4 linked regions of the Homo sapiens genome follow. The protein of the gene in region 1 purifies or fractionates together with the protein of each later gene. This does not show direct contact. Each region holds a gene or a part of one and is shown in the gene's direction. Other genes may lie near its edges. The genes, in order: TMCC2, FKBP10, CMTR1 and MARK2.

What was found.
Region 2: the proteins of TMCC2 (region 1) and FKBP10 purify together in Homo sapiens (affinity purification with mass spectrometry; 2 studies listed by BioGRID and IntAct, with this or other methods). This does not show direct contact.
Region 3: the proteins of TMCC2 (region 1) and CMTR1 purify together in Homo sapiens (affinity purification with mass spectrometry; 2 studies listed by BioGRID and IntAct, with this or other methods). This does not show direct contact.
Region 4: the proteins of TMCC2 (region 1) and MARK2 purify together in Homo sapiens (affinity purification with mass spectrometry; 2 studies listed by BioGRID and IntAct, with this or other methods). This does not show direct contact.

What each region holds. Positions count from the first base shown.
Region 1 is NC_000001.11:205,265,648-205,272,996, forward strand, and holds part of TMCC2 (transmembrane and coiled-coil domains protein 2), read left to right. Parts: intron 1-3,302; coding exon 3,303-4,237; intron 4,238-5,472; coding exon 5,473-5,608; intron 5,609-6,148; coding exon of another isoform or gene 6,149-6,165; coding exon 6,166-6,477; 3' UTR 6,478-7,349.
Region 2 is NC_000017.11:41,808,056-41,816,341, forward strand, and holds the start of FKBP10 (peptidyl-prolyl cis-trans isomerase FKBP10 precursor), read left to right. Parts: upstream 1-4,948; 5' UTR 4,949-4,979; coding exon 4,980-5,224; intron 5,225-8,286. Other genes in the region: P3H4 (endoplasmic reticulum protein SC65), read right to left, coding at 1,651-1,779, 2,625-2,979, 3,077-3,229, 3,399-3,860. UniProt on the Homo sapiens protein: PPIases accelerate the folding of proteins during protein synthesis.
Region 3 is NC_000006.12:37,470,889-37,478,237, forward strand, and holds part of CMTR1 (cap-specific mRNA (nucleoside-2'-O-)-methyltransferase 1), read left to right. Parts: intron 1-132; coding exon 133-189; intron 190-958; coding exon 959-1,016; intron 1,017-1,530; coding exon 1,531-1,599; intron 1,600-2,581; coding exon 2,582-2,713; intron 2,714-3,635; coding exon 3,636-3,758; intron 3,759-4,432; coding exon 4,433-4,524; intron 4,525-5,237; coding exon 5,238-5,306; intron 5,307-6,703; coding exon 6,704-6,751; intron 6,752-7,349. UniProt on the Homo sapiens protein: S-adenosyl-L-methionine-dependent methyltransferase that mediates mRNA cap1 2'-O-ribose methylation to the 5'-cap structure of mRNAs.
Region 4 is NC_000011.10:63,904,917-63,911,676, forward strand, and holds the end of MARK2 (serine/threonine-protein kinase MARK2), read left to right. Parts: coding exon 1-127; intron 128-1,171; coding exon 1,172-1,198; intron 1,199-3,343; coding exon 3,344-3,388; intron 3,389-3,960; coding exon 3,961-4,321; 3' UTR 4,322-6,104; downstream 6,105-6,760. UniProt on the Homo sapiens protein: Serine/threonine-protein kinase. Involved in cell polarity and microtubule dynamics regulation. Phosphorylates CRTC2/TORC2, DCX, HDAC7, KIF13B, MAP2, MAP4 and RAB11FIP2. Phosphorylates the microtubule-associated protein MAPT/TAU.

The sequences.
Region 1 (7,349 bases):
GCCTCCCAGTTCAAGAAATTCTCCTGCCTCAGCCTCCTCAGTAGCTGGGATTACAGGCGTCCGCCACCACGCCCAGCTAATTTTTGTATTTTTAGTAGAGACAGGGTTTCACCATGTTGGTTAGGCTGGTCTCGAACCCCTGACCTCATGATCCACCCGCCTCAGCCTCCCAAAGTGCTGGGATTACAGGCATGAGGCACTGCACCTGGCCCCAGAACCCATTTTCTAGATATTCTTTCTCCCAAGAAGACAGTGAAAGAGAGCTGGGCATCTGTGGAAAGGGCAGCAGCTTTATAAGAGAGACAGGTTCTGGGCTGGGCGTGGTGGCTCAAGCCTGTAATCCCAGCACTTTGGGAGGCTGAGGCGGGCGGATCATGAGGTCAGGAGATCGCGACCATCCTGGCTAACACGGTGAAACCCCATCTCTACTAAAAATACAAAAAATTAGCCGGGCATGGTGGCAGGCGCCTGTAGTCCCAGCTACTCGGGAGGCCGAGGCAGGAGAATGGCGTGAACCCCGGAGGCGGAGCTTGCAGTGAGCCAAGATTGCGCCACTGCACTGCAGCCTGGGCGACAGAGCGAGACTCTGTCTCAAAAAAAAAAAAAAAAAAAAAGTTCTGTAACATCAAAGGCCATGTGTTGCCTATAAAACATAATTTTGGGCCGGGCGCGGTGACTCATGCTTGTAATCCCAGCACTTTGGGAGGCTGAGGCGGGTGGATCCCCTGAGATGAGGAGTTGAAGAGCAGTCTGGCCAACATGGCGAAACTCCATTTCTACTAAAAATACAAAAAAATTAGCCGGGCGTGGCGGCTCATGCCTGTAATCCCAGCTACTCAGGAAGCTGAGGCAGGAGAATCACTTGAACCCAGGAGGCATAGGTTGCAGTGAGCTGAGATGGCCCCACTGCATTCCAGCCTGGGCGACAGAGACCCCGTCTCCAAAAAAAAACAAAAAACAAATAAAAAAAAAAAAACCGTTAATTTTGTGTAGTTCTAGCAATACAGAGTAAATTTGTTGGTATAATTTCTGAAATAAATTTAGGCCAGCTTGATTGCAGGCATTTTTTCTCCCAGGGGAAAAAAGGGATTACGCTGCCTAGATTCAGATTCAGCGTTTAATGAGCACCTTCTGTATGCTTCGCACTATGCCAGCTTGCCAGACGTCATCTTGTATAGCTCTCACAAAAGACCTGAGAGTAGCTGTGATTACCCGCTTTTTGTCGGCGAGGACACTGAAGGTCAGGAAAATGGAGAGATGGGCTTTTTGCTGTCACTGCAGGGAACAAGGCAGGAAGAAGCAGCCTAATTGCAGGTTAGGGTTTTAAGTCAGGCTACTGGGACAGTTAAGACCTTGGAGCAGATCACTTAAGGGAGACTGTGGGTATGAAAGGTCAGAAATTCTGAGAAGCAGAGTCCTGAAGGTATGAGCACCTGCTGGGAGGTCAAGGGGGGATGAGGGGAGACCCAAAGCAAACATAAGAGGGAAGTCCTGACTTCAGGAGTGATTAGGGATGGGGTTGTGGTTGTCCACAGCATCCCCAGGGGGAAGTGTAACCTGGAAAAGCCCCAGTGGAAGCCCACAGAGGAGCCGCCCTCCCCTGGCTCCTGAGTTTGGCAGGGCTATTATTTTCAATCGTGTTTTCCAATAACTTTGCACCTTGGCAGAATCAAGCCAAGTGACTTATGCCTGTAATTGGCAGGGACTGTTTCCAGTTCTGGTGCATGTGACTGGGCCACTATCTTTGTGTTTAACCCCTTCCCCCACATATATCTGACCACACCCCTGCCCCCTCCCATACATACTAAGGGCAAATGATCTGACCCAGCCTTGCTTGGGGTGTGCTGTGTGTAAAAATACATGGGGTTGAGCCATTTCCTGCTGCTTCCGTTGTTGTATGGCGATAAGACACTGGGGACTCAGCTGTGGACAGAAAGATCCTCCAACAGGCTGAGAGGAACCAGGCACCAGGGGAGCAGGTCTCAGGCCTCCCCGCTTTCAGCCCACCTTACATTTCCCATCTTTCCTATCTCCTGTGACCTTTTCCTCCTTTCTCTCCCTCCCCATCATCCTTTCTTAGTCTCTCTTCTCCTTTCCTTGTCTCTCCGACTTTGGTGCCACCCTGATGCACTCGGGAAGCCTGCCCGCCTGGTGGGGAGTGAAGGGGGCTGTCATTTCCTTCCTACGCATTCACCCTCTGCAAAGCTGGGCGGCTAGTAGCCTCAGGCCCCCAAACTGGTCCCTGCTTCCCTTGGCCTTTGAGTTACTTCTGGGGCTTTAGTCCTCGGGGACCTGGCCAGCAGGGTGGGGGTGGGGCATGCTCCTCTCCCAATTCTCGGATACTAGGAAGGACTGGGGGCTTCCACCATTATGAAGCGGAAAAGGTTACCAATGACTCTGGAGAGCCGTAAGGTAATGGAGGGCCTGGGAGAGGTGTCAGCAGAGGCAGGGTGGCCCGCTGAGCTGCGTTGTTAGTGAACATGGGGTGGCGAGGGCAGGCAGGCAGGGCACAAAGTGTAGGCGGTCAGCCCTGAGGGAGAGGCCTGCTCAAGGCAGGAGCCTTATGAAGTGGTTGAGTCCAGAGAGAAAATTTGTCTCATTCCTCAGAAATCCAACCCCATGACTCCAGTGAGGCCTCAGACCTGCCTGGTCCATGTGCTGGAGCTTTAAGAGCTCTGGGCTGGGGCCAGGCGTAGTGGCTCACACCTGTAATCCCAGCACTTTGGGAGGCCAAGGCAGGCAGATCACTTGAGGTCAGGAGTTCGAGACCAGCCTGGCCAACACGGTGAAACCCCATCTCTACTGAAAATACAAAAATTAGCCAGGCATGGTGGTGGGTGCCTGTAATACTGGCTTCTCGGGAGGCAGAGGCAGGAGAATCCCTTGAACCAGGGAGGTGGAAGGTGCAGTGAGCTGAGATTACGCTACTGCAGTCCAGCCTGGGCAACAGAGCGAGACTGTGTCTCAAATAGATAAACAAACAAATAAATAAAAGAGTTCTGGGCTGGAGGTTCTGTCCCTTCCTGGCCGTGTGTCCCTGAACAACTTGTTTGACCTTTCTGGGCCAAAAGAGGAGCAGCTCTGCCTAGACTGCATTTTGGGGATGCTGTGGGGACGGGGTAGAGAGCAGATGTGAAAGCCCTGTGTAAGTGGCTGTCAGGGATACTGCTCTTGTGGTGGTTGTCTTCTTTTGGACTCCTGCATCCATTTTCTAGATAGAAAAACCAAGTCCAGAGGCATCCAGGGGCACTCCTATGGTCCCAGGGTTTACCCATGCTTCCTCTGCCTGCCTCTTTCCCCAGGTCGATAAGGGAGACCTGGTGGCCCTGAGCCTCCCCGCCGGCCATGGTGACACCGACGGCCCCATCAGCCTGGACGTGCCCGATGGGGCACCGGACCCCCAGCGGACCAAGGCCGCCATTGACCACCTGCACCAGAAGATCCTGAAGATCACCGAGCAGATCAAGATTGAGCAGGAGGCTCGCGACGACAATGTGGCAGAGTATCTGAAACTGGCCAACAACGCGGACAAGCAGCAGGTGTCACGCATCAAGCAAGTGTTCGAGAAGAAGAACCAGAAGTCAGCCCAGACCATCGCCCAGCTGCACAAGAAGCTGGAGCACTACCGCCGGCGCCTGAAGGAGATTGAGCAGAACGGGCCCTCGCGGCAGCCCAAGGACGTGCTGCGGGACATGCAGCAGGGGCTGAAGGACGTGGGCGCCAACGTGCGCGCAGGCATCAGCGGCTTTGGGGGCGGCGTGGTGGAGGGCGTCAAGGGCAGCCTCTCTGGCCTCTCACAGGCCACCCACACCGCCGTGGTGTCCAAGCCCCGGGAGTTTGCCAGCCTCATCCGCAACAAGTTTGGCAGTGCTGACAACATCGCCCACCTGAAGGACCCCCTGGAAGATGGGCCCCCTGAGGAGGCAGCCCGGGCACTGAGCGGCAGTGCCACACTCGTCTCCAGCCCCAAGTATGGCAGCGATGATGAGTGCTCCAGCGCCAGCGCCAGCTCAGCCGGGGCAGGCAGCAACTCTGGGGCTGGGCCTGGTGGGGCGCTGGGGAGCCCTAAGTCCAATGCACTGTATGGTGCTCCTGGAAACCTGGATGCTCTGCTGGAAGAGCTACGGGAGATCAAGGAGGGACAGTCTCACCTGGAGGACTCCATGGAAGACCTGAAGACTCAGCTGCAGAGGGACTACACCTACATGACCCAGTGCCTGCAGGAGGAGCGCTACAGGTAGGTGCCTGCCCACCCCCTCCTGCAGCCCAGCCGGACGTGGGATGAGGCAAGGAGCACTGGGTTTCAGACCCAGGGTGTGGAGGCAGTCAGAGGAGCATCCTCAGCCTCCTGGCTGCTGGAAGGAGCCAGCACGAGGCCCTAAGGAGCCTTCTTTCTTTTTTCCTTCTGTATTTTTTGGAGGCGGAGTGTCTCTCTGTCGCCCAGGCTGGAGTGCAGTGGCACGATCTCAGCTCACTGTAACCTCTGCCTCCTGGGTTCAAGCGATTCTCCTGCCTCGGCCTCCTGAGTAGCTGGGATTACAGGCACGCACCACTACACCCCGCTAATTTTTTGTATTTTTAGTAGCGACAGCGTTTCACCATGTTGGCCAGGCTGGTCTCGATCTCCTGACCTCAATTCAGGGATGACATTAATTCCTTCTTCATAGGGTCATAAAGATACAATGAGTCCAGACCTGTAAAGTCGAAGCATGTGAATGGATGTATAGCTTCCAAAACATGAACCTCCAGTCGGAGCTCCTGGGGCCAGCCTGGAACAGAGCTGACATCTCTCGGCCTCTCCTTCTGTGTCTCCCTCCGGTCCTGTGCTGCCCTTTTCTGCCCTTGGCTCTGTGCCTCTGCAGCACTTGCCGCTCGCTCCCTGGGCTTGTGGGGGGATCTTTTCCTTAGCTAGCACTTTCTCTTTTTCTTCTCCATATATATAAAGAAGGCTTGGAAAATTGAAGGGGAGCCCCACCTAAAAGCTAACCACTCCTCACATAACAGTCATCTTACGCTATTTTGTGCCTTCAGAGCCGGGATTGTGTCCTCTACACCCATGTGTCCCTGGTACCCAGAGAGCATCTGAGCCTAGGGCTTAAGAGCCCAGGTTGAAGTCAGCCAATCCTTAACTCCTCCATTCATGAGCTGCGTGATCCTAGGCAGGCTCCTCAGCCTCCACGCCTCAGTCTTCTCCTCTGTAAAATGGAGATGACACTGGCACCTATCTCATGGGATTGTGGGGAGGATCCTATGAGGTCATGTAGGTAAAATGCTTAGCACAGTGCCTACACCTAAGAAGTGCTGTGTAAATAGTAGCTTCTATTGTTGTTGCTGTTAAAATTAGAACAGAGCAGAGCTGGACACGGGGGATGGGCTGAGTCATTGTTTATTGAGAGAATGAATGAATCAACTGTGGGAGAGAGTGGAAGCTCGGGGAGCCAGGACTGGTGTCACTCTCTCTCCCTCCGCCAGGTACGAGCGGCTGGAGGAGCAGCTCAACGACCTGACTGAGCTTCATCAGAACGAGATGACGAACCTGAAGCAGGAGCTGGCCAGCATGGAGGAGAAGGTGGCCTACCAGTCCTATGAGAGGGCACGGGACATCCAGGTATGGCCAGGGCAACCTTGGGAGGCCCCAGATGTGCTGGTAGAGCTGGCAGCAGCCAGAGGGTTAGGGTTCTTGTCACGTGGGGCATGATAGACACAGGCTGGCCTGTTGGCCGGGGCCGATAGGCACATGGATGAAGAGGGCAGCGTAGCGGGAGCGGAGTGGAGTGAGCAAGACAGGCCTGAGGCTGACAGCGTGCACTGTGCAGAGGCAAGCCCACAGGGCAGAGGCCACCATGCCCCCCACCTCTTTGATGGCAGCTTCGCAAATGAGTATTTGGAGTTTCCAGGCTCCAGCCTGCCTCAAGAGGGAGCCAGCTGGGATTGGGCCAGCTCTTTTCCTTCCCTAGTAATCAAGACTCTCATTTCCTAGCATCCTCCCCAAAGAGTCATCCTTAAAGGTCTCTGACCCCAGTTGCAGCTGGTCAACCTCCACTCCTCCTGGCCTTTGGAGAGGAGACTTCGTTATAGGCACCTTCTCAGTGGGGTAGGTAGGTTTTCAGCCTAGGGGTCCTGCCCATCCTGAGCGCACACATGCCAGCCCCTCTGCCCCTGCAGGAGGCCGTGGAGTCCTGCCTGACCCGGGTCACCAAGCTGGAGCTGCAGCAGCAACAGCAGCAGGTGGTACAGCTGGAGGGCGTGGAGAATGCCAACGCGCGGGCGCTGCTGGGCAAGTTCATCAACGTGATCCTGGCGCTCATGGCCGTGCTGCTGGTGTTCGTGTCCACCATCGCCAACTTCATCACGCCCCTCATGAAGACACGCCTGCGCATCACCAGCACCACCCTCCTGGTCCTCGTCCTGTTCCTCCTCTGGAAGCACTGGGACTCCCTCACCTACCTCCTGGAGCACGTGTTGCTGCCCAGCTGAGTGGCCAGCCACACCAACCCTGTGCTCTCTGGCCCCCAGCTGGCCACACTTCTCCAGGAGGGACCCTTGGACTTCTTTGTGTGTCCAGTTTGGCCTCCTGCCCAAACTGTCCATTCCAGCAGCTCCTGCCCCCTTCTCTGTACTTGCTTCTGTCTGACACCTTCTCCCTGTTGGCCTGAAGGGAGCTTAGAATGCAGCCCTACCTGGAGATAGTGCGGGCACCTGTGGCCAAGTGGAGCAGAGGTGGACATGGGGTTGGATTGTTTTGATTATTTATAGTTACACAAGGACTTCTCCCAGCTGACCCTCAGGATGCCCCAAGTCAGGAAGACCATTAAGAATAGGAGGAGAGGGCTCTGCCTCAACTTTCCTAGGAAAGAGCCCACCTCGGAGATAGCTACGGTTTTCTCTGGTGGAGATGGTGAGGATGAAGGCTGGAGAGTGAGGGAGGAGGCTCTGCTGGCCGCAGAGAACACAGGGATGGGAGGGTCCCTAGCCTTCGGGCACCTCCAGGGCCAGAGAGCAGGCTCAGAGCAGCTAGTGTGGAGCTCAGCATCCCCACCCCACCCCTCCTCCCTGTAGAGCTGATTTGAGGCCTCCTTCTGGGGCTGGGCTCTGCAGGCCAGGTGGGTGTGGCCTGTGTTTTCCCTTCTGTTCTTTCTGCCTGTACTGGATCTGTTATTTTCAGGGAAACAGGCCCCAGGGCCCCCCTGAGCCTCACCCTAAGCCCTTAGGCCTCTGAGAGTGCTGTTGGGTTCTATTTATTTATTTATTTGTTCCTTTGTTCCCTACCCGTGCCCCCAGTGTCTTCCCTGCTGAGTACCAGGAGAGGTCCTGCCCCATCCTCTCTCTGAAGCCAGGGCCCTTCCATT
Region 2 (8,286 bases), on another chromosome or scaffold:
AACTCCATCTTCCAGTTCAGTCCAGCACCCCTGCTACCCAGCCACCTCCCAGAATACCTAATGGGCTCCTTATCCCACCCAAGCATAATGCCAGCTAGCATGTAGTGGGCACTTACCCTATGCCAGGCCCTGACTAACTCATCTAAGCCTCACTGTTATTGTCTTTTTATTGTTTTTGAAACAGGGTCTCACTCTATCACCCTGGCTAGAGTGCAGTGGTGCAATTATGGTCACCTCAAGCTTGATCTCCCAGGCTTAGGTGATCCTCTCACCTCAGCCTCCTGAGTAGCTGGGATTACAAGCAGGCACCACCACACCCATCTAATTTTTTGTATGTTTTTGTTTGTTTTGAGACAGGGTCTTGTTCTGTCACCCAGGTTGGAGTGCAGTGGTGTGATCTCGGCTCACTACAGCCTCTGCCTCCTGGGCTCAAGCAATCCTCCCACCTCAGTCTCCCCAGTAGCTGGGACTACAGGCACGCGCCACCATGCCTGGCTAACTTTTTGTATTTTTTGTAGACACGGGGTCTTGTCATGTTGCCCAGGTTGGTCTCGAACTCCTGGGCTCAAGCCATCTGCCTGCCTGGGCCTCCCAAAGTGCTGGGATTACAAGTGTGAACCACTGTGCCCAGCCATGCCTACCTATTACTGTCATCCCCATTTTACAGTCAAGAAATCTGAGTCACAGAGAGGTTAGATAAATTGCTCAAGCTCACACAGCTGGAGAATGATGGCTCTAGTGAATTAGAGGCCCTTAGCCTCTCTGCTATGTGTACCCAGGAAGGGTCTCCTGGCCCCTGGGTTCTCAGCCCCTCTGCTCTGACTCCTGGCTCTGTCTGAATCTTGGCATCTCCGAGCTGCAGGAACACTGGAGGCTGTCCATTCCAGCCCCAGTGGATGCCAGGATCTCTCCAGTGAGGAGAGCCACAAGTCCTGGTGCCACTTTTTATTAGTCATAAGACCAACAGCCCCTTGCCCTATAAGCCTCAGTTTCCCCATCTGAAAAATCGGTCCAGTAATGCCAGCTGCATGGTGTTGGTGAAAGGACCACATAAGATAAAGTGACTTATAAACTCTCAAGTGTTGGCCGGTCATGGTGGCTCATGCCTATAATCCCAGCACTTTGGGAGGCTGAGGCAGTGGATCACCTGAGGTCAGGAGTTCAAGACCAGCCTGGCCAACATGGTGAAACCCCGTCTCTACTAAAAATACAAAAACTAGCTGGGTGTGGTGGCAGGCACCTATAATCCCAGCTACTCAGGAGGCTAAGAGAATCACTTGAATCCGGGAGGCAGCGGTTGCAGTGAGCCGAGATCGTGCCCCTGCACTCTAGCCTGGGCAAGAGTGAAACTCCGTTTCAAAAATAAAAATAAACTGTCAAGTGCTCTGCAGTTGTTGGTTGTCTAGTCATTTGCCCAAAAGACCCTCTTCTTCTCCCTGAGGCTGCTGTCTGTTCTCACTCAGAAGCCTCTCACCTGCCCCAGACTCCCAGGGTGCCTTCCCCATATTCCCACCACCCCTAGACTTTCCTCCTATCACCCAGGGTCCTCAATACTGAAGGAAAGCTCCCCACAACTCTGGGAGGCTCCCATACAGTCCTCTCCCTTATCACCTCGTCCCCTGCCCAAGCCAGCCCACCCAGGGGGCTCACACTTATAGTAGGCAAACTGCAGGTAGTGGTACATGGTGGCCACGAACTTGTCCACGAAGTAGCCACCCACATTGGGGGTCAAATTGGCCTCACAGTCCACCTTGCACTGCAGGGACTCTGCAAAGAGATCTGAGGGTGGGAGGCAGCAGTGAGAGGCTGGCATTGCAATGAACATCTCCGTCCCCCCAGTGGAGAAGACTCTAAATCCAATCTCTGCCTACTAAGCCAAGCTGCTTGTCCAGAAAATGTGTTGCTGTTGCAATCACAGGAGAGAATGTCTGTAAAGTGCTTGGCATACTATATGACAAGTGATGGTGAGGAAGATGACTGTGGGCTGGGCTGACTCACCACCCCTGCCACTCAACCACCACCCCAAGCCAGAGGGAGCCAGGGCATTCTGGGAGAGCAGCAGGTGAGGTCCAGAAATGGGGCAGAAGTCCAAACAGAGAAGCTAAAGGACAGTCTTTTTTTTTTTTTTTTTTTTTTGAGACAGAGTCTCGCCCTGTCGACCAGGCTGGAGTGCAGTGGCGCGATCTGGGCTCAATGCAACCTCCGCCTCCCAGGTTCAAGCGATTCTCCTGCCTCAGCCTCCCGAGTAGCTGGGATTACAGGTGCCCGCCACCACGACCAGCTAATTTTTGTACTTTCAGTAGAGACGGGGTTTCACCATGTTGGTCAGGCTGGTCTTGAACTCCTGACCTCGTGATCTGCCTGCCTCGGCCTCCCAGAGTGCTGAGATTACAGGTGTGAGCCACCACACCTGGCCAAGTACAGTCCTTTCTGCCCCTGCTCGAGGGACCCCAGGGTTAGAGATCCCAAGACTAGGTGTAATTTCTGGTTATCAACTGCTTTCTGCACACATCTGCTGGGTTACTTCTCACCGCTGCACCTTTGCATCTGCACTGCCCTCTGCCTGGAAGGCCTATGAACCCAAGCTTCCCAAACCCTTTAGGGATGTCACTGCCTCTACTCACTGATCCAGCCCCTTGGACACTCCCAGCTGGGGCCCCTGCACCCAGCGTCTTTCTCAACAGACAAGGCCTTCCTCCCGGCTGGCTCCTCCGCATTCGCAGTGCTCCACGTGCATGAAGGGGACATCTGCCTTACCGGGCCCTGTGGGTGAGAGGACCGCCCACCGTGGTCTGGGTGGCAGATACCTGCTATGGCCGGGTAGAAGTCCTTGAAGTCCACCTGCTCATGGGCCCCTTCACAGCCGGCCAGGCACCGGGCAAAGACTGCCAGGTACTCTGACAAGGCCCGCTCCATGTCCTCCGTGCTGCTGCGGAAATCCCCGCTGTTGTAGAGCTTCACAGCCCGGAGGAACACGGCCTGGAAGGGGCGTGGCAGGGGGAGTCAGGGCGCCCCCAACATCTCCCCTCCTCTACTAGCCCTCCTCTACAAGCCTCCTCCTGACCCTCCACCCCACCTCGTAGGGCTGGGCCTCTAGGTCCGTGAGGGACTCGTCGGCGACGTCCAGCATCCCCTGATAGTAGTTGAGATACTTGGCGGTCAGCTCGTGCTTCGGGTTCCTCTGGAGGAAGGTGTAGGCCGCCGCCACCGCCTTCTCCAGCCGGTTAGCCTGGTCGGGGGGTAGGGGGTGGGGGAGCGGGTCAGCAAGACCGGAGCTCGCGGCCCCGAGCGCACGGCGGGCTTCGTGCCTTGGGTGAAGATAACGCTCCTTCGACCGATCTGTGGGGAGCCACGACGCCCAGCCCGAGACAGGTCCCCGGGTGGGGGCGGGCTCCCACCTTGAACAGCGCGTAGTGCAGGTACTGGTAGGGCAGGCGGCTCTGGAAGTCACGCAGCAGCTGCCGCGGCGGGTAGGGCACCTGGAAGGCGGGCAGCGTCCGCTTGCAGCGCCGCAGGCAGGCGGCTCGCTCCAGGACGCGGCCGAAGAGCCGCAGCTCGCAGGCCCACTCGTCTGCGCGGCCGCCGTCGGGATCGGGCTTGGCCGCGGGCGCGGGGCCGCTGCAGTTGGCGTGGCAGAAGGCCTCGCTGTCGCGCAGGAGCCGGTGCAGCCGCAGCGCCGCCTCCAGGTAGCGCGCGCTCTCGCGCCAGCTCTCTCCCTCGTACTGCTCCAGAGCGTGCCCGTACGCCGCGGCCAGCGGCATCAGGTCCTCGGGCGGGAAGCCCCGGAAGCTGTACTTCTCGTACTGCGCCCCGGCGCTGCCCAGCAGCAACCACAGCAGCCCCCACGCCACCCGAGCCATGCCCGCCGCGCCGCCGGCTCTCCGGAGCTGAGCTGGCTGCCCCGCGGACGGAAGGGGACAGGGCCGGGCCCCGGGCGGGCGGCGCGCCCGCTGGGTCTTAGCGCCGGGCACGAGGCGGCAAGGTGGGGCGGGGCCTGGGTCACGACGTCTCCCCTCTTTTCCCAGAGGGTCCGATAGTGTCGTTAAGTCCTCTCCGTCGGCCCGGGCTCCTGCCTTGGGGGTGTCCCCTAGGTAGAGAATGCGTCGGGGAGCGCTTCCCGCCAGAGATGGGAAGCCCAGGAAGCCCCTCCCCATGCAAACAGTGCCCCCGCCTGAGATCAGGACACTGAGTGAGGGCCGCCTCCTCTGCGCTGCCCATACGAGAAGGAAGCCCTGGAGCCGGGCCTTCCGTCGCTGCGCCCTCCTGCACCCTCCGAGTGTCTCCCCCGCCCACGTCGGAGGCACACACCTGCTGTCACCTGCACACCTTGCGCTGCCACCACCCCCCACTCCATCTCCGTGCCCGTCACATCCCAAGTCACAAAGTCCTTCTTTCAGTCCAGCTTTTGCGGGACCAAGCTGCTCTTCCCTGGAGATGCCTTCCCTTGGAGTACAGCTGGGGTCACGGATGAGCACGGAGATGCCTCTCACACTCCGCGGCTTCACCACCCACCTGGAGGGGACTAGAATTCGAAGTGCCCGCGAAAGAAGCAAGGTTCATCTCCGCCCGGCTTTAGGACCCGGGGGCTCCGGAAAAAGTCATTGAACTTTTTTTTTTTTTTTTCCTTTGGTGTCCACTCAGAGTTCTCATCTTTCCCGAGCCTCTCTCCCTGGCCAGGCCCCAGGTCTCGCAGCCAGGGATGGAGATGGGGGGAGGGGGAACCTAGAGTTCTTTGTAGTGCCTCCCTCAGACTCTAACACACTCAGCCTGGCCCCCTCCTCCTATTGCAACCCCCTCCCCCGCTCCTCCCGGCCAGGCCAGCTCAGTCTTCCCAGCCCCCATTCCACGTGGACCAGCCAGGGCGGGGGTAGGGAAAGAGGACAGGAAGAGGGGGAGCCAGTTCTGGGAGGCGGGGGGAAGGAGGTTGGTGGCGACTCCCTCGCTCGCCCTCACTGCCGGCGGTCCCAACTCCAGGCACCATGTTCCCCGCGGGCCCCCCCAGCCACAGCCTCCTCCGGCTCCCCCTGCTGCAGTTGCTGCTACTGGTGGTGCAGGCCGTGGGGAGGGGGCTGGGCCGCGCCAGCCCGGCCGGGGGCCCCCTGGAAGATGTGGTCATCGAGAGGTACCACATCCCCAGGGCCTGTCCCCGGGAAGTGCAGATGGGGGATTTTGTGCGCTACCACTACAACGGCACTTTTGAAGATGGCAAGAAGTTTGATTCAAGGTAACCCCGGTTGGGCGCCCCCGGATTCACCACTCCGTCCCCTGAACCCGGGGTCCTGTTTCCTTGTTGCCTCTTTTAAGCTCTGCATCCCAATACTCTAACCCTAGACAGCACCCCTGGGGCCTCCCAGACACCCATCTCCCCAAAGATACCCTCCTGCCCCCACTTCCAAACCCTCACTTCTCAAAGGATCCCATTTCTTTCTCACAAGCTCTCCACATCCCGGAAAGGACTCGATAATCAAGGTGAACTGCCTTGTGTAGTTACCAGGGCTGTATGTAATGACCTGATGGAGAGGGGTGTTCTGATCTACAGTGTTGGGGGGAAGGGGGTGGTCCCTGCTGCTTAAGAACCCTGGGATGGTCTATCAGCCTGGACCCCGTACCTTTCCACCCACCCTGACTCCCCTTCTGGTTCCACTGTTTTCAGTGCCTTTGTGGTCAGAGAAGAGGGAATAGAACTTTTTTTTGGAGGGGGTGGGAGTTTTCAGCGGCTGGTGGGCAGGGAAAAAGGCTGGTGGGTATTATAAGAAGACAGCCGGCTGGACCTGGGGGTAGCGCGTGGCTCCCTGCGGAGGCCCTGTCTACGTGTCACACAGTCGGACATGCCACCCTGGGCTCCTTGGAGGAATTTCATTCCTCCCTCTCTGGTTCTCCTGGAACCCTCATCTCTCTCCATTTTAGGTACACCAGGCCAGAGGCACAGGCCGCCCATTTTTGCCAGCCTTGGGGTTTGTAAGGTGGCCTCCTGGTCTGACCCAGGCCTTTGGTCTGCCCCAGCAAGTCCACTTTTGTTAGCGGGGACAGGGCAGGGCTGTATGCCAGCCTCAGGGGTAAATCTAGGGTCCCAGTTACACACAGACCCCACAGCACACTGAAAGAAGTCAGTGTTTCTTAGACCCTCCTCTGAAACACACAACTCAGCCCACAGGAAATTAGTGGCCATGACTTTAGAGGCAGGCATATATTGGGGTAAGCCTACAAACTCCAAGAGTCCCAAGACCCTGGTTCAAATCCAGGCTATGACCATGGACAGAGAATTTTGTCTCTTTAGGCATCACTTTCCTTATCTGAAAAGTGGAGACAAAAACAGGACCTACTTGCTAAGGCTGATGTTAGGACTCCAAGGACATGGATGAATGAACGTAGGCTTCTCACAGGGCCTGGCAGTCCTCCAGCCAGTTCAGCACACATTAACATTGACCCTGAGGAAAACCATATGACCTGATGCTGTGGAACTTGTAGAAACTTAATGCAGAGCTTAAGCCTTCATAACAACACTGAGAAGGAAACAGTCCAGACTTAAAACCTGTCTGCTTGGTGGGCAAATTCAGATATAGGGTAGTAGCCAGAAGTGCAGCCCTGAGCCCTTGACTGCTAGGAGTGAGGCAGGGGTTGGGATTTAGGGGATGTCATCCCTGATGGGGACTCTGGGAGCCCAGCTCATGAGTGTTGAGCTTGGAAAACTTTTTGTTTTTTAGCTGGAGGCTCACTCTGTCGCCCAGGCTGGAGTGCAGTGGTGCCATCTCAGCTCACTGCAACCTCCTGGGTTCAAGCAATTCTCCTGCTTCAGCCTCCCAAGTAGCTGTGATTACAGGCGCATGCCACCACGCCCAGCTAATTTTTGTTTGTTTGTTTGTTTTTGTTTTTTGAGACACAGTCTCACACTGTTGCCTGGGCTGGAGTGCAATGGAGCAATCTCAACTCACTGCAACCTCCGCCTCTGCCTCCCAGGTTCACGTGATTCTCCTGCCTCAGCCTCCCGAGTAGCTGGGATTACAGGTGCACACCACCACACCCGGCTAATTTTTTTGTATTTTTAGTAGAGAGGGGTTTCACTATGTTGGCCAGACTGGTCTTGAAAAAGGCGGGTGGGTATTATAAGAAGACAGCCAGCTGGACCTGGGGGTAGGGCATGGCTCCCTGCGGAGGCCCTGTCTGTCTACGTGTCACACAGTCAGACATGCCACCCCAGCCTCGTGATCCGCCCACCTCGGCCTCCCAAAGTGCTGGGATTACAGGCGTAAGCCACGGCGCCCAGCCTTAATTTTTCATATTTTAGTAGAGATGGCGTTTCACCATGTTGCTCAGGCTGGTCACAAACTTCTGAGCTCAGGCAATCCACCCTCCTCAGCCTCCCAAAGTGCTAGAATTACAGGCGTGAGCCCCCGCGCCCACACAACTTAGAAAACTTTTTTTTTTTTTGAGACAGAGTCTTGCTCTGTCCCCCAGGCTGGAGTGCAGTAGCGCGATCTCTGCTCACTGCAAGCTCCGCCTCCTGGGTTCACACCATTCTCCTGCCTCAGCCTCCCGATTAGCTGGGACTACAGGCGCCTCCACAATTTTTTTTGTATTTTTAGTAGAGACGGGGTTTCACCATGTTAGCCAGGGTGGTCTCCATCTCCTGACCTCATGATCTGCCCGCCTCGGCCTCCCAAAGTGCTGGGATTACAGGCGTGAGCCACTGCGCTCGGCCAGAAAACTTTCTTAACCCATGGCCCCTTCAATTAAAAAAAAAAAAATCTCCCATCCTCACTTTACTTCTGAAAACTTAAAATAAATTAAAAGTGTATATAATTGGCTGGGCACAGTGGCTCACTCCTGTAATCCCAGCACTTTGGGAGGCCCAGGCAGGCAGATCACTTGAGGCCAAGAGTGACCAGCCTGGGCAACATGGCGAAAGCCCTCTCTACTAAAAATACAAAAATTAGCCAGATATGGTGGTGCATGCCTGTGATCCCAGCTGCTACTTCGGAGGCTGAGGCAGGAGAATCGCTTAAACCCGGGAGGTGGAGGTTGCAGTGAGCTGATTGCACCACTGCACTCCAGCCTGGGTGACAGAGCCGAGACTCCATCTCCAAAAATACATATGTATAAGTAAAAATAAATACATTAATTAAAAGTGTATAACTAAAAACAAACAAAAGCCATGGCACTTTTAGAATAGGCTTTTTTTTTTTTTTTTTTTTTTGAGAGGGAGTCTCACTCTGTCGCCAGGCTGGAGTCCAGTGGCACGATTTCGGCTCATTGCAACCTCCGCCTCCCGGGTTCACGCCATTCTCC
Region 3 (7,349 bases), on another chromosome or scaffold:
GTTTCTTTCTCAACTCTCCAGCTCCTTCACCAAATATAGATGGCCACTGCTCCCGTTTAACCTCTCTGTCCTGATGTCAGTTACCTGTCTTTTTTGGTAATCCTGAGATCAAATAATTTTTTTTTCTTCTAGCCACTGTAGTCTGCAGATCAAAGCTCTGGCGAAAATCCATGCCTTTGTTCAAGACACGTGAGTGTTGCCCACTTTTCAGAAACCACCTATTTCAAGGGAAGATCTTGCTTTTCCTCCCCACAAGCTGTTTGTTTTTTTCATTTCAACAAACATTTTAAAACACCTGCTTTTTTCTCATACTCTGCTATGGTCTCTGAAGGATGCCAGAGAAGCATATGACATGAGCTTTGTCCCCAAATACTTTACATTGTCTTTGGGCAGATAAGAGTAACCCAGGAAAAGGATACAGGAAAGGTTATTAACAGTGCATCAGAGGGTGTAGAGTGGCATGGCACAAGTAGAATACATAATGTTCAGGGGACACAGAGTAAAGAGTGATCAAGAGAGGAGAGGTAGGACTGATCAGAGAAACCTCGGGTAGGGGGTGAACATAAGCTAATTCAGCTTTGTGGGGCATGGTGACATCCAGTGGGATGGGTTTAGTGTGGCCTGTGTCAGCAGAAGAGGAGCTAGAACATGCTGATGGGTGATTGAAAAGGGTGTCGGGGAGGACCCTGGCATCCAGGTCGTCTGGAGGGCACTTTCTCCTTTCCCATTGTGGTGAGAAGGGCAGGTAATCCCATTTCGTGTATGTTTGAGCTCCTGTCTTCAAAAGGAGAGCCTTGCATGTGTTGTAATCACGCTGGGCCAGTGGCAGCATAGTGTCTGTGTGTACACTCACATGTTCATTCATTCAGGCCTCCTCTCTATGGGATATGAGGGGTGCACAGGGGGCACTCCTGTGCCTCTTAGAGATTTTAATCACTAACTGGCTTCATATTCCCAGGACACTGAGTGAGCCTCGACAGGCAGAGATACGGAAGGAGTGCCTCCGACTCTGGGGGGTGAGTATCTCCCCCGCCCATTGCTGCTTCAGGGCAGGGAAGCCATAGAGAAGAATGGGGTTGACTCCCAATCCTGTCACCTTAGGGTGTCTCTGCATCCAAAAATATCTGCTACCCTCACAGCATCCCAGAGGTTGACATCTCGGCATTGTTGGTAGTTACGTCCTTGGCCCTTTCACTGCTGGTTTGGCCCTGCAGCTGGGTCAGAAAGGACTAAGGGGTGGGGTGTGGGGAGGTGGGCCGGTGTCAGTTTTGCAACTGGTGGCCCCTTGTAGCAGCACTGACAACAGAGAGCCCCAGAGAAAAGGAAGTAGCCTTTGGGGTCCATTGCCACAGGATCTGAAAGGGAGCAGTGAGTGAATTATCCACCTCCATCCCTGTCAGCCTAGCCTCCTTTGTTGTGTGCCATTCCTCCTCCCCAGTCTGACCCTATCTCCTCCACCTGCATATACTCATACACGGTCTTGGTCAAAAGGGCATTTGAAAGTCAAAGCTCTTTGCTGTCTTATTTCAGATCCCAGACCAGGCTCGTGTGGCTCCTTCTTCCTCCGACCCTAAATCGAAGTTCTTTGAGCTAATCCAGGTAAGACTGGTATCTGTGGTGGACATAAAAAGTTAGAGATCTGTCTCTAGATGTGGATGGTATCACTGAGGCCCCAGATGCATGGTCTCCAGAGGGCTTGTGCAGATGCCCACCATGGGCTCTAAGGGGCGGAGCTAAGGCTGCCACAGGTGGGAACCTTTGGTATAGGGTGTTGAATTCCCCAAGAGCACAGTCAGGCCAACGGAAGATTCTCATGTTCAGTGCTTGGGCTCAGCATTCCTGCCACCCAAAGGGTGGTTCTGGCTGTGTCACCCTGGCAAGTTCAGGGTCCTGTGGGATTTGCCTACAAAGGAGACATAGAGTGTGGGATGATCTTAGGCAAGGGAGCTGGGCACAGGGTGAAGGGAGCTGCCAGGGAAGCCCGCAGCAGGGTTGGCCTAACCCCAGGTTCTTTGTCTTATTTCTGGTGAGCTGGTCCTCAGAGTTCTTTTGCCCTGTTTCTTCTACCACTCAACCTCCAGCTTTTACTTGGGCCTCATTTAAATCTGTCCCAGATCATGGGCAATTGTGCTGGTTTTGTGGGGGTCAGGGAGTAGAGACTGAGGTTCAAGATGCCCTCAAAAGAATAGTATGTGTACATTTTTCTAAATGGGGTAAAGAGATCACTAAACTGTTCTCAAACCAACTGCTGGAGAATCCTTGCTTTGAGTTTTATTGAAGGGGCAGCTTTTATATTCTGGTGACATTTTCTTATAGGTCTGGTAAATTGATCTGTACTTGGGGACTCAGTGTTCTTTCCTTTTCCAGCCTCTCCTAATAGGTCCTACAGGAACATTCCAAGCAGATGGAAATAGATCCCATTTAGTGCACAGTTAGGTAGAGAAGGGGGTGCAGGGGAGCATATTTCAGAGAGCCAATGCTTCCTGTCCCTTGCCTTGTCGAGCCTGCCCCCAGCCCAGATAGGCACCCATACTGTCCCTTCCCCCAACCCGGCAGTGTTTTCTCTGACTCGTGGCTGCAGGGCACTGAGATTGACATCTTCAGCTACAAGCCCACACTGCTCACCTCTAAAACCCTGGAGAAGATCCGCCCTGTGTTTGACTACCGCTGCATGGTATCTGGCAGTGAGCAGAAGTTCCTCATCGGCCTGGGGGTAAGTCTGCAGCTGGCTTCCTGCCCAGCTTGGAATGGTGGATTTGCCCTTTGCGGAATCTGGACAGCTGCCTGCCACACTTGGTACATGTTCTCTTGGCATTAAGTAGCTGTTGCTTTGACCCTAGTGAAGGTATTTCTTGAAACTTCGTTTCCTTTCTTCCTCTGAGTTTGCCAAGTGTCATTCATTCATTCTTTCATTTGTTTCTTCAATTCTGTGCATTGCTAAAGGGAACACTGCTACTTTTCTTGTGATACAGAGCTTCCCAGGCTAGCAGAGTGGTCAGCAGGCTTATCTGGCTTGAGCCCAGGCAGCCATTCCTTTGCAACACCACCACCACCCCATGCCATCCCATCCCCTGTCTTGCAAAGATACTCCCTGTCCCTACCCTGGGCCCCCTGGAGTCTAAAGTGAGGTGAGGGAAAGCCTTGGCAAGCTCTTTATCTTACTTAACTGGGTAAAGTCATTGCTTTTTCTTTCAACTCTTGACTTGTGTTTCTATATAATTTGATCCTGTCTTCCTCAGTTACTTCTTTTGTACCCTCTCACACTTTGTCTTTTTCTCATTTTACTTACTCTCTCCTTCTCTGCTCTCTGGACTCTTCACTAAACCCACCTTAGACATATACGAAACTGGATCTTTTTTGAGGGCCACTAATTATGGACTTAGGTCTTTTGAGTGGTGCCCTGCACCCGTTCCAAGGCTGAGCCAGATCTCTGCTTCTCTTCTGCTGAGGCACTGGAGAACACTACTATCATTATCACTAAAGTATAATGGATTTAATCTCTCATAGACATTTTCTTCTGACATTTCCCAGTCCCATCAGTTTGTAGCTGCCAACTAAAAGCTCTTTTGAGAAGTAAGCCTCTTATCCCTCGATCTCCATGCCTTCCTTACCTGGCTGTTTCTCTCTGCCTGTAGAAATCCCAGATCTACACATGGGATGGCCGCCAGTCAGACCGCTGGATCAAGCTAGACCTGAAGACAGAGCTGCCCCGGGACACTCTGCTATCTGTGGAAATTGTGCATGAGCTGAAAGGGGAGGTCAGAGATGGTTCTGCTCAGGTGTTGGCCCTGCAGCTAGGGGACTAGGGGGCTGCTGAACCTGGCCTTTTGCCCTGAGTTAACTTGGTTACATTGTGTGGTGGCTGACAGGGCCCAGGGCTGGGGTAAGGGTTTATAATGACTCCTCCCCGAGCAGTTGCTCTAAGCCACAGTGGTTCAGGTAAGGAGGAGCGCAGTCTCCGTGCGTCAGAGGAGACCTCGATTGTCTCTGTGCATTGAGGGCCCTGGTGAGTCTACTGGGTATTTTTTAGCAGCTGATTTAGTTTTTGACCAGAGATCCCTTGGGAAACAAGAGACTTGTTTCTCAGGAGCCATGAGTATGAAATCTATATGGTGACATTCAGAACAGTCAGTAGGAGCAACTGGCAAGGGGGGTAAGCCAGATCCTGGCTGGAGTGCCATGGCAGCAGCCTCACTGGGTTTGAGGTTCAAGGGGCCTTATCACCCAATGCCTTGGATCTTACCCTGCTCAGAAGCCGAGGCCAGTCTGATGCTGAGGAGCAGCTGGGAGGGAGACAAGAAAAATATCCTGCATTTAGAGCCCTACCCTTCCCCCAGCTGTAGGCAGAATGGAGCCAGCATGCCATGGTGGGTAGTGGGGGCTGAAGGCTGACACCTGGCAGAGTGGGCAGTGTACCTACTTATCCTTCTAGGGGAAGGCCCAGAGGAAGATCAGTGCCATCCACATCCTCGATGTCCTTGTGCTGAATGGCACCGACGTTCGGGAGCAGCACTTTAACCAGCGGTCTGACCTGGGCCCCAGGGTAGGGAGGGTGGGGGTAGGCCAGGGCAGCTTGGGAGGACAGCGGCCTCCCGAGGTGTGGCCCCTTATCTAGGCCTTCTCTGCTTGTTGACATCCTGAGAGTTTCCCCCTCCCACCCACTGACTGGTCCCAAAGTCAGGGTGAGAATTGGAGTTGCCACTTCAGAGTTTGCTAGGGCTTGGGCCCTGGTTATCAGAGATACCAGCACACTCCATTTTGCCACAGCTGCTCAGGTTGAGGTATTTATGTTAAGGTTGAGCAAGAGGGTGACCTTGCGGGTAGAGGGGGTACTCCTTGGAAGAAATATCCTGTGCTTGAGTGGTCCCATTTAAGTTGCTCATCTGAGTGGGTGCACTGTAGTTTCCATGCTTTGGGGTGACAGGGCAGACACATACAATAAAGATGATACTTGAAGTTCTAGTGGAGGTGACTGAGCACAGCTGAAGGCACACTTCAGGAAAACCAACCGACATAGTGAAATTAGAGGTCAGAATCCACAGGGGCGGGGCATGAATAAAGACGTCGGTGGAGAAGGGCAGGGCGGGCTTCCTGGGGGACATGGGTGCTGCCTCTTAGAGCAGTCTTGCCGCAGATTCAGAAGGTTCTCCTACTGGAGCTGTGAAAATGCCCTGGGGGTAGGGGTGCTGGTGGAGGCATCCTTGGCTTGCCTCTCAGAGAGACTGTTTGGATTGTAGAATTCAGCTTGCCGAGAAATTTGTGAAAGCCGTTTCCAAGCCTAGTCGGCCCGACATGAATCCCATCAGGTGAGCATGTGGTCCCTACCCTCCATGCTTCTTTCTGGCCAGTACCTGCTGCTCCCGTCCAGTGAGGGACAGGAGGGCTCAGTGGAGGGCACTAGGCAAGTGGGTGTTAGAGACAAGACCATTCTTGCCATGAAGTTTGTTTGGGGGTGCTAGGTAGGTGACTTGCCCCAGAGCATCTCCCCATCCTGCCTGGCAGTGGGTGAACTTCATTCTGAGGGGTTAAGGCATCCTTGTTTAGGATGCACGTGCTTCTGAGAGTGCCAGCCCACCTCATGAATACCCGTTCCCACTTGAGCATTGTTAGCACATTACCTGGCCTTTTAATTTTTTTTCAGGTAAGAAATGGGTGCTGAGGGAATAGGAATTTTGAACATGAAAAAGAGAAGGATTGTTTGAGGGAATGGGACCCCCAGTGCTGAGGGAGAAGGAGGCCAGGGTTGTAATGTTAGATAGTGGGAAAGTTCCAGGACCCTGAGAGAGAAAGGAGGAAGAGAACAGAGTCAGGAGGAGACAGATGGAGGACACACTTTTCCAGGGTAGGCTGAGGTCTGAGGTTATTGCCAAAGGGCACTGCTTAGCCCTGCTCTCGGGAGCTTCATGCGGCTGGAGACTGAGGTATCTATTTACACTTTATCCACATTGTTTTTGTTCTTTTTAACATAAATTTACTTAGTTAAAATTAAATCCAGTATTGAGAATGCACTTTATAGATGGCATGTGAAAGTTTCAAAGGAATTTCTTTCTGCACTTTAAAATGTCCTGTCTGCTAGGTCCTGAAAGACAGCTCCCAGGGGGAACCCTGCCTTCATTGCTTGTGGTTTGGTTGCTCGATTTCTGGGAACGTTCCCCACTAGCAGTTCCAAAGACATGTTCAGGGCCCCCAAGAGCTGAGCATGGGCATCAAACAAGAGCCCTGCATTCTTGTTAGGGTTTCCCCACCCGCTGTGGGTAATAGGACTATTAGGACTGTTTAGCAGTAACTTGTTATGGAAGGCCTAAAATCCATGTGGACAGACCTGGGCAAGAGCCTACTCCTTTGTTTTCTGCCCTCTGGTGATGGTGAAGATGACTTGGGGGTGGGAATGCTGACAGAGACATCTTTGTCTGCCAGACTTTTCTTCCTCTTTCTCCCTCCTGTCTTCAGTATCCAGTTTCACTCCCCAGTTGCCCTGACGCAGGCCTGAGGAGGTGCTTGGCAGCTCTGAAACCCAGGGCTTGTCTGTGTAGAACAGCCATGTTGGCAGGCTTGGTGTCCTCGCTGCCGGTGGGCTGGGTGGTTTCAGGGAGGGCCTGGGGCAGAAGCCAAGGTCAAGTGCAGTCTCCTGCCTCCCAGCTGCCTCCTGGATGAGAATGTCCCCCAGGAAGCCTTTGTCTTGTCTCTGTCCCTCTACCTGCAGGGTGAAGGAGGTGTACAGACTGGAAGAGATGGAGAAGATTTTTGTCAGGTGAGTGACTTGACCGGTGAAGCTCAGATTCAAGAGGAGGTGGGGGTGCGGCCGTGTCCTGTAGTCATCCTCCGTTTCATAAGATGGGTCGGGGGCGGGGGGTGGTGAGCTGCCTCCAGCGGTCCCCTCACCTCATCTGCCTCGCTGCAGCACTGCTTGCAGTCAAGAGTCCCCCAGCTGACAGCTGCTTCAGCATCCTATCAGGAGGGAGCCAGGCGGGCTGTGTCAGGCAGAAATACGGGCTCATTGATGCTGTCATAGTTACGATGGGCCCTGCGAGGGGCAGAGCAGCAAGCTGCTTGAAATACCATAAATCCCAGCTCCCGCTGCTGAGAGAGAAATTGAGCCTGGAGGGGTAGAAGGGGCATAAATGCGTCCTTATATTCTTAGTGGTGTGCGGGTGCTCACAGAACTCAGTCTCCTTCTGGGTGTGCTTATGTAGAGGTTACATTAACTCTTCAGTGGCTGCAGTGTTGCCATGGGCACCCGTGGTGTCAGATCTCACCCTTACTGGTGTCACCCTGAAATCCCTCAAGCAGCAGTGACACAGCAGGGTCATTTGTTACTCCCCTGCCTCCACTGCCTGAGTGGGAATTCA
Region 4 (6,760 bases), on another chromosome or scaffold:
GACAGGTGCGGGACCAGCAGAATTTGCCCTACGGTGTGACCCCAGCCTCTCCCTCTGGCCACAGCCAGGGCCGGCGGGGGGCCTCTGGGAGCATCTTCAGCAAGTTCACCTCCAAGTTTGTACGCAGGTAAGCAAGGAGCTTTGGGTGGCAGAGAGGCTCAGGCCAGGCCTTCCTGCTTTACTCGGGGTGGGTTGGGGGTTGGGGGTTGGGGTTTGGGACACTCTGTACCGGTATTGGGTCCTGGGGTTAGAAGAGGCTTCAGGAAGCACAAGAAATTAGGTCTTTGTCAACACCTTATGTGCCCAGGCCCACCCCTCTTAGGCCTCTCCCCAACTCCTCACAGGCACCCCTCATTCTCTGGCCCCAAGCAGATGGCCGATGCCGCCTCCTCTCTAGGAGAGTGTGAACTCAGATGCTAAAATAAAAGCCCCCCCTTCTCTCCTGGGTTCCCATGGAAACTTATATTTGGTGACGCAGCTGCAAAGTCATGAGGCATGAGCCAGGCTGGGGCCAGCAAGGAAAATTTTGTCCTGGTCTCTTGCCCCTTTGACTGCCTCTCCCACTAGTTGGTTCTGTTTCTGGCTGCAGGCGCAGCCATGCCCTTCTGCCCGGGGGTTTTAGGGTGAAACCTATAAATGAAATCACTGGCGAGGGCCTACAGTGGCCTCTTCCCTAACCTAACTCCGATGTGCCAAAGGTTTCCTGTGTTGGACCCAGGGTGGGGATCTCTTCACGGGGTTTCTCACACCTGAGCCCCCAGCCACCACAGAGGTGCAGCTTGAAGTGCATCCAGCCAACTGGCTGGCCTCCTGGGATGCTCCGCATCCCCATCCTGCCATTCCTCTCCCTGCCTTGGAGTAGCAGCTCAGGAAGCAGCAGGGGCTTTGAGAGAACAGGCTCGCCTGCCCTTCCTCTACGTTTCACTCCACTCTGCTGGAGGAGCCAAAGCCACTGCCCCATCCGAGCCCCAGAATGCAAGTGTGAGGCCTGCAGAGAGTGTGGGCAGGTCTGAAAGCCTGGGACTCTAGTCTCGCTGAGCGGCTCTTCCGAAAATGGGATGACCCTTGAACCTGTAAAGCCACCTCCCCCACCTGCTTATCCACATACCGTCTTGTTGGTTTTTTTTTTATTTCTTTTTTTATTTTGTCTTTTTTTTGTTTGTTTTTTTAGAAATCTGTCTTTCAGGTTTGCCAGAAGGTAGGCGTTGAGCCCGCTGTGTGTGTGTGTGTGTGTGTGTGTCTGTGTCCTGTGTCCTGCCTCCATCACTAACTCCCCTTTTCTGGCTCTTACTCTCCTCCATCTGCTTAACCAAGTCTGTGTGGCCCTCCTCTCTCTGCCATCTTAAAGGGATGAAGACTGCCTCTGATTGGGCATCAGCACAAGGCCTGCCCTCCGTGCCCCCAGTACAAACAGGCAGGGCTAAGAGGCCACATTGGCCCACTCAGGGCAAATGGCTTTAAAAATGAGGGCCTTCCTTGGGCCCACAGTTAACGCCTGTCCTCAAGTAAGGGGAGACTGTCTCAGGGAAGCCTCCCTTTAAGATTGTCTCCTCTCACCCACCCCACCCCACCCCCACTCCCTCTCACCCCAGGTTTTGGTCACAAGTGTTGGGATCCTTTCCTGCCCTTTCCCTTGTCATGTGCATGCGCTATGAGGAAGCTCCAGGGTTACAAGTGCATCTGGGATGGTATCTTGTTTGTTGTCTCCTGGGTTTCCTGAACTTCAGAGCTATGTGACCTCTTCCCCGTGGCCTATGGGATCGCAGGACTTTGGAGACACTACGGGGACCCTGGGGCCCCAAGGTTTCAGTCTGGCTCCCCCAGACCTTAGGAGCTTTTGTCTCACAAATGGAGCACAGCACCCCCTCCTGGCAGCTCCTGCAGAACTAGCCCCACCCACCCGCACCCCTGCCCCAGCACCCCTGCCACCAGCAGCATCTGGATAAATCAAGCCTCTTCTCCTCTAGGCTGTTTTCTCCAGATATGGCCTGTCTCTTCCAAAGTGCGGGGAGCTGGGACATTCTAGGGCAACGGCCATTCTACCCCAAGCCGTAGCAAAACAACAGGAGATCTCTGCACCCTTACTCAGGGGTCTCCCTTCACAGTCCCCTTCCTGGCTCTTTCACCCCTGGCCTTATGCTCATCCTCTCTGCAGGCCTCGGGGACCAAATACCAAGCTGAAGACCAAGGGCCAGGTTAAGAGTGCTTGTTCCCCAAGGCTGTCTGCTCAGGCCCTGCATTGGGACTGGGATGCCTGGCAGGCACATTGGTGCCACAGCTGATGGAGGAACGTCCAGACAGGGTCTTCAGGCTTTCCCTATCCCCTCCTCCTCCCACCCAGCTGTTGACTGCATGACTGGCTGCTGCCTCAAGGGGCCCCAGCAGGGGGCTGCCCCACAGGGGGTCTGGAGAGAGCAGGGAGGGTGCCTTCCTCGCACAGCCGGGCTCCCTGCTCGCAGTGCGCTTGTGTGCACCCCTGTGTTGGTTGTGTCTTCCTGTTTATTTCTATGTGCTGCTGCTCTTCCTCCTTCCTCTCATATCCTTCCTCCTCTGCAATCCCCAGTTTCCTAGCTCCAGACACCCATCTTCCAGCCAGGAGCTGGAGAAGCCGCTCAGCGGGGCCAGACCTCTTCCCCACCCACCCAACCAAGGTGTCTGCCCTGCCCTGCCCCACCCCACCCTCATCCTCCCTGCGTATGAGCAGATGGCCTGGCAGGCCAGCAGGTAGGGGAGTTGGGAAAGGTCGGAGGAGGCCGCCTTTTCCACTCAGCAGCAGGAAGCCATCCCCAGGTGCCTACCATGCAGACCCAGGCCTTGGCACTTTGAGTCTCCTGACAGGCCCTTGCGTAGCCACGGCCCCTCCTCCTACAGAGATTCAAAGCATTGCAGCCCCTTTCCTCCAAAAGGACTGCAGTCCTGAGACCCTAGCGTGTGGCTCCAAAAACGCACTCACACCTGCAACCCCCAGAACAGCGCGTGAGCCCTGGCTGTGGGGGAGCAGCCTCGTGCCGGGCCGTGTGCTCAGTGTGCTCAGTGAAGTGCGTGCACAGCCACTCCCCCTCCTCCCCCAGAGCAGAGGCTCCTTCTCCCCGGCACAGATCTGGGAATGTGGGGAGGGACAAGCCCCATGTGCTGGGCTCCCTGCTGGAAAGGAATGGTTGAGCCGCCAGTGTGAGGTGCTGCAGAGCCCTGTTGGCTTGCCAGGTGATGGGCAGAGGGCCCTGGGCTTGGGTCCTGCCCACCCACTGGTGGCACCTCCCCAGACCCACTCTCATCTGGGTCTGTGGCGGCGGAAGGAGCGAGAGATCCCAGCACTAAACTCTCCCTCGCTCTGTTTTTTGAGGAACCTGAATGAACCTGAAAGCAAAGACCGAGTGGAGACGCTCAGGTGAGAGGGCTGGAGCCAGCACTGGCCCTGCCCGGGCCACCGGGCTTGCCACAGCCTCCTGCTCCTCTCTTCCTTCTGCCACTTGGCTCTTCCTCCCGTGGTTCTGCCCTGTCCCTACCCTCTGGGGCCTCCCTTTCCTCAGAGAGTTTCCCCTTCCCAAACCCAATTGCAGGAGTTACGGGCCCTTCTCCTCAGGTCTGGTATATTCTGGAAGTCGGAGTTCTGGGTCGGGTGGTTGGGGCTACAGATTCCTACCCCTGGACTATCCCACCTCCCTGTGCTCGGAGGCTTCTTTCTGGAGAGAGAGTCTGTGCTCGTGCTGTTGAGGGCACTGGTGTCTTCCCTGACCCCACCCCGCCTACCCCAAGGCTGGCTTCTCCTCCCCTTCGCTGTCCTGAGAGATGGGGGTTGGAGGACTGCCACCCTCCGCCCCCGCAGGCCAGGGGCCACGCCTGGCTGCTCCTGCTCCCTCCCGCTCTCCTCTCTGGGCTCAGGGGCTGTCTGCCAGGGTGGCTCTCCTGGGGTGGGGTGCCTCAGCCCCCCCGTGACGCCCGCCTCTGCCCTCTCCACAGACCTCACGTGGTGGGCAGTGGCGGCAACGACAAAGAAAAGGAAGAATTTCGGGAGGCCAAGCCCCGCTCCCTCCGCTTCACGTGGAGTATGAAGACCACGAGCTCCATGGAGCCCAACGAGATGATGCGGGAGATCCGCAAGGTGCTGGACGCGAACAGCTGCCAGAGCGAGCTGCATGAGAAGTACATGCTGCTGTGCATGCACGGCACGCCGGGCCACGAGGACTTCGTGCAGTGGGAGATGGAGGTGTGCAAACTGCCGCGGCTCTCTCTCAACGGGGTTCGATTTAAGCGGATATCGGGCACCTCCATGGCCTTCAAAAACATTGCCTCCAAAATAGCCAACGAGCTGAAGCTTTAACAGGCTGCCAGGAGCGGGGGCGGCGGGGGCGGGCCAGCTGGACGGGCTGCCGGCCGCTGCGCCGCCCCACCTGGGCGAGACTGCAGCGATGGATTGGTGTGTCTCCCCTGCTGGCACTTCTCCCCTCCCTGGCCCTTCTCAGTTTTCTCTTACATGTTTGTGGGGGGTGGGAGATTGTTCTCCAGCACCCCACATTCACCCCTGCCCAGAGATTCCCCCTTCTCCTCTCCCCTACTGGAGGCAAAGGAAGGGGAGGGTGGATGGGGGGGCAGGGCTCCCCCTCGGTACTGCGGTTGCACAGAGTATTTCGCCTAAACCAAGAAATTTTTTATTACCAAAAAGAAAAAAGAAAAAAAAAATCCCAGCGGCCACCTTTCCTCCCTGCCCCATTGGGACAGTCGAGACTGGATCTGTGGGGTTTCCCGGGAGGGTGGCTCAGGGCTGGAACACTCTCAGGCAAGAGTGGTGGAGCTCCCGTCAGGCCCTCCGCCAGGCCCACTGTGGGCTTCTCCCCTCTCCTCCCTCCTTCCCCTCCAAGCAAACCACCAGAGGTGGCCTTCCCCTGACCTCAGGCCCCTGGGCTGGAGGCCTGGGCGGTGGGGCAGGGGGCGGGGGTGCTGCGCAGCCCTGCAGTGGGTGGGGCTGGGGGCTGCTCCGGGGCTGCTGAGGCTGGAGGGCCGGCACAAGGCTCCGCCTCCCTCCACACTGTACCCTCTGCCCCTCCTCCCCAGAGCTGGGCATTTCCTTCCACAAGCTGCTGTGGGGACGTGTGTTCCCTCAAAGTCTGTGCCATCTTCTCCCACCCCTCCCGGGTAGAAGGAGGGGCTGACCCCAGGGCTGGGAGAGGGGAGGGGACTGGAGGGCAGACTGGCTTCTCGGTCCCCAGGGGGCCGCTTGGGCTGTTGGTCTCCAGAGCAGGGCCACTGGGCACTCTGTGATGGGGGAGCCTTTGTCTGAAAGCACAGCCCCCTCGCCCTTCCTCTCCCCATGGCTTCCCCTTCATTGGCATTAATCTGGGCACCAGCTCTCTCCATAGCAGTGACTTCCCTCACCACTCTCATCTCTCAGCCTTGCCTTTTCTTCCTGACACTGTCGCCCCCTCCTCTCAGGAGACACTGCCGAGGGCCACCTGGCAGAAGGCTGAGTTAGGCAGCAGGGCCGGGAGCGTCTGCCCTCCACAGGGTGGGGGACAGATAGGCTAAGCGACTCCCAGCTTGCTACCCTCAGTGGCCAGTGTGGGCGTGGGCGGTTTGGGGCGCTTGGCTGGTGGTGGCCACTGCATCCCTTAATTTATTTCTCTGCTGTTTCTGTTCTTGAGAAATTGGGGGTGGGAGTCCTACACAGAGGCTGCCCCTACCCTCACCTGAGTTGTACATTTTTTTGTGATGGGTTTTATTTTTTATTATTTTATTTTATTTTTTTTTTTTTTGATTTATGATGACTCCACCCCTCTTCATCACCCCCGCTCCCAGGCCAGGCTCAGCGATTAAGCCGAGCCCTTGCGTCCTAGGAAGGGGCCTTGCCAACCTCAGCCCTCCTGCCCCACACTCCTACTGCGGCTCAGACCAAGGGCTCCCCCTCCCTCCCTTCCCCCCTCCTGCCCTATGGAACAGCCCGGGTGCTCTGAGGGGGCTGGGAGGGCATGGCTTGGCTCCCAAAGGGGGTAGGGGCCCGGGGCACCCAGGCAAGGTGGCCCCTCCCCGTCTAGCCCCCTCCTCCCCAACCCTGCACTTAGTTTCTCCTCTGGATCAAACACGTAATAAAGAGAATGTTTGGAATCTGAGCTGCCTCCTCCTGTTTCTTCTCCCAGCCAGGCAGGGACCCAGTCTCCTGTGGGCAAGATGTGGCCTAGCCCACCTGCCTTGCAGGAGAGACTTGATTCCTGTCTGGGGCCAGTGCTGGGTGGGCCCAGCTCCCCACTTACCCACAGGGCACAGACAGGAAGCAAAGCCCAGGGCCCTTGCACCAAAAGGGAAAGAAAACTCAGTAAGCTTAGATTTTATTTTTTTTAATTTTTAAAAAATGTTGAAAAATAAATCCATGTCTGCATAAGTTCCCAACCCCCATTTCTCCAAGTTTCTGGAAGGTGGGCTTGGTGGGCACCCTCAGCTCCTTAGCATTTCCCAGCTGGCCCCTGAAGACAGAGCTTCTCTTCCAGCCTCTGCTGCTGTAAGGCCCCTCTGCCCACCTCCCCCCCTGCAGCCTCCCTCCCCACCTCACCCCAGACTTATTGCTAAAAGAAGGGAAAGAGGAATGAGAACAGCCAGCACACCCAACTGCCCTCTCCCCACTCCACGCTAAGGTCACTACCCCGGACACACAAAGGGCAGGACCCAGAGGCCAAGCCCCAGCAGACTAGGACACAGCCATTCCAGTACCGGCCAGGAAGCGAAAGTGCCCTCAGGCCAGCTCAAAGGCCCCTGAGCCCGGCCATGGCCC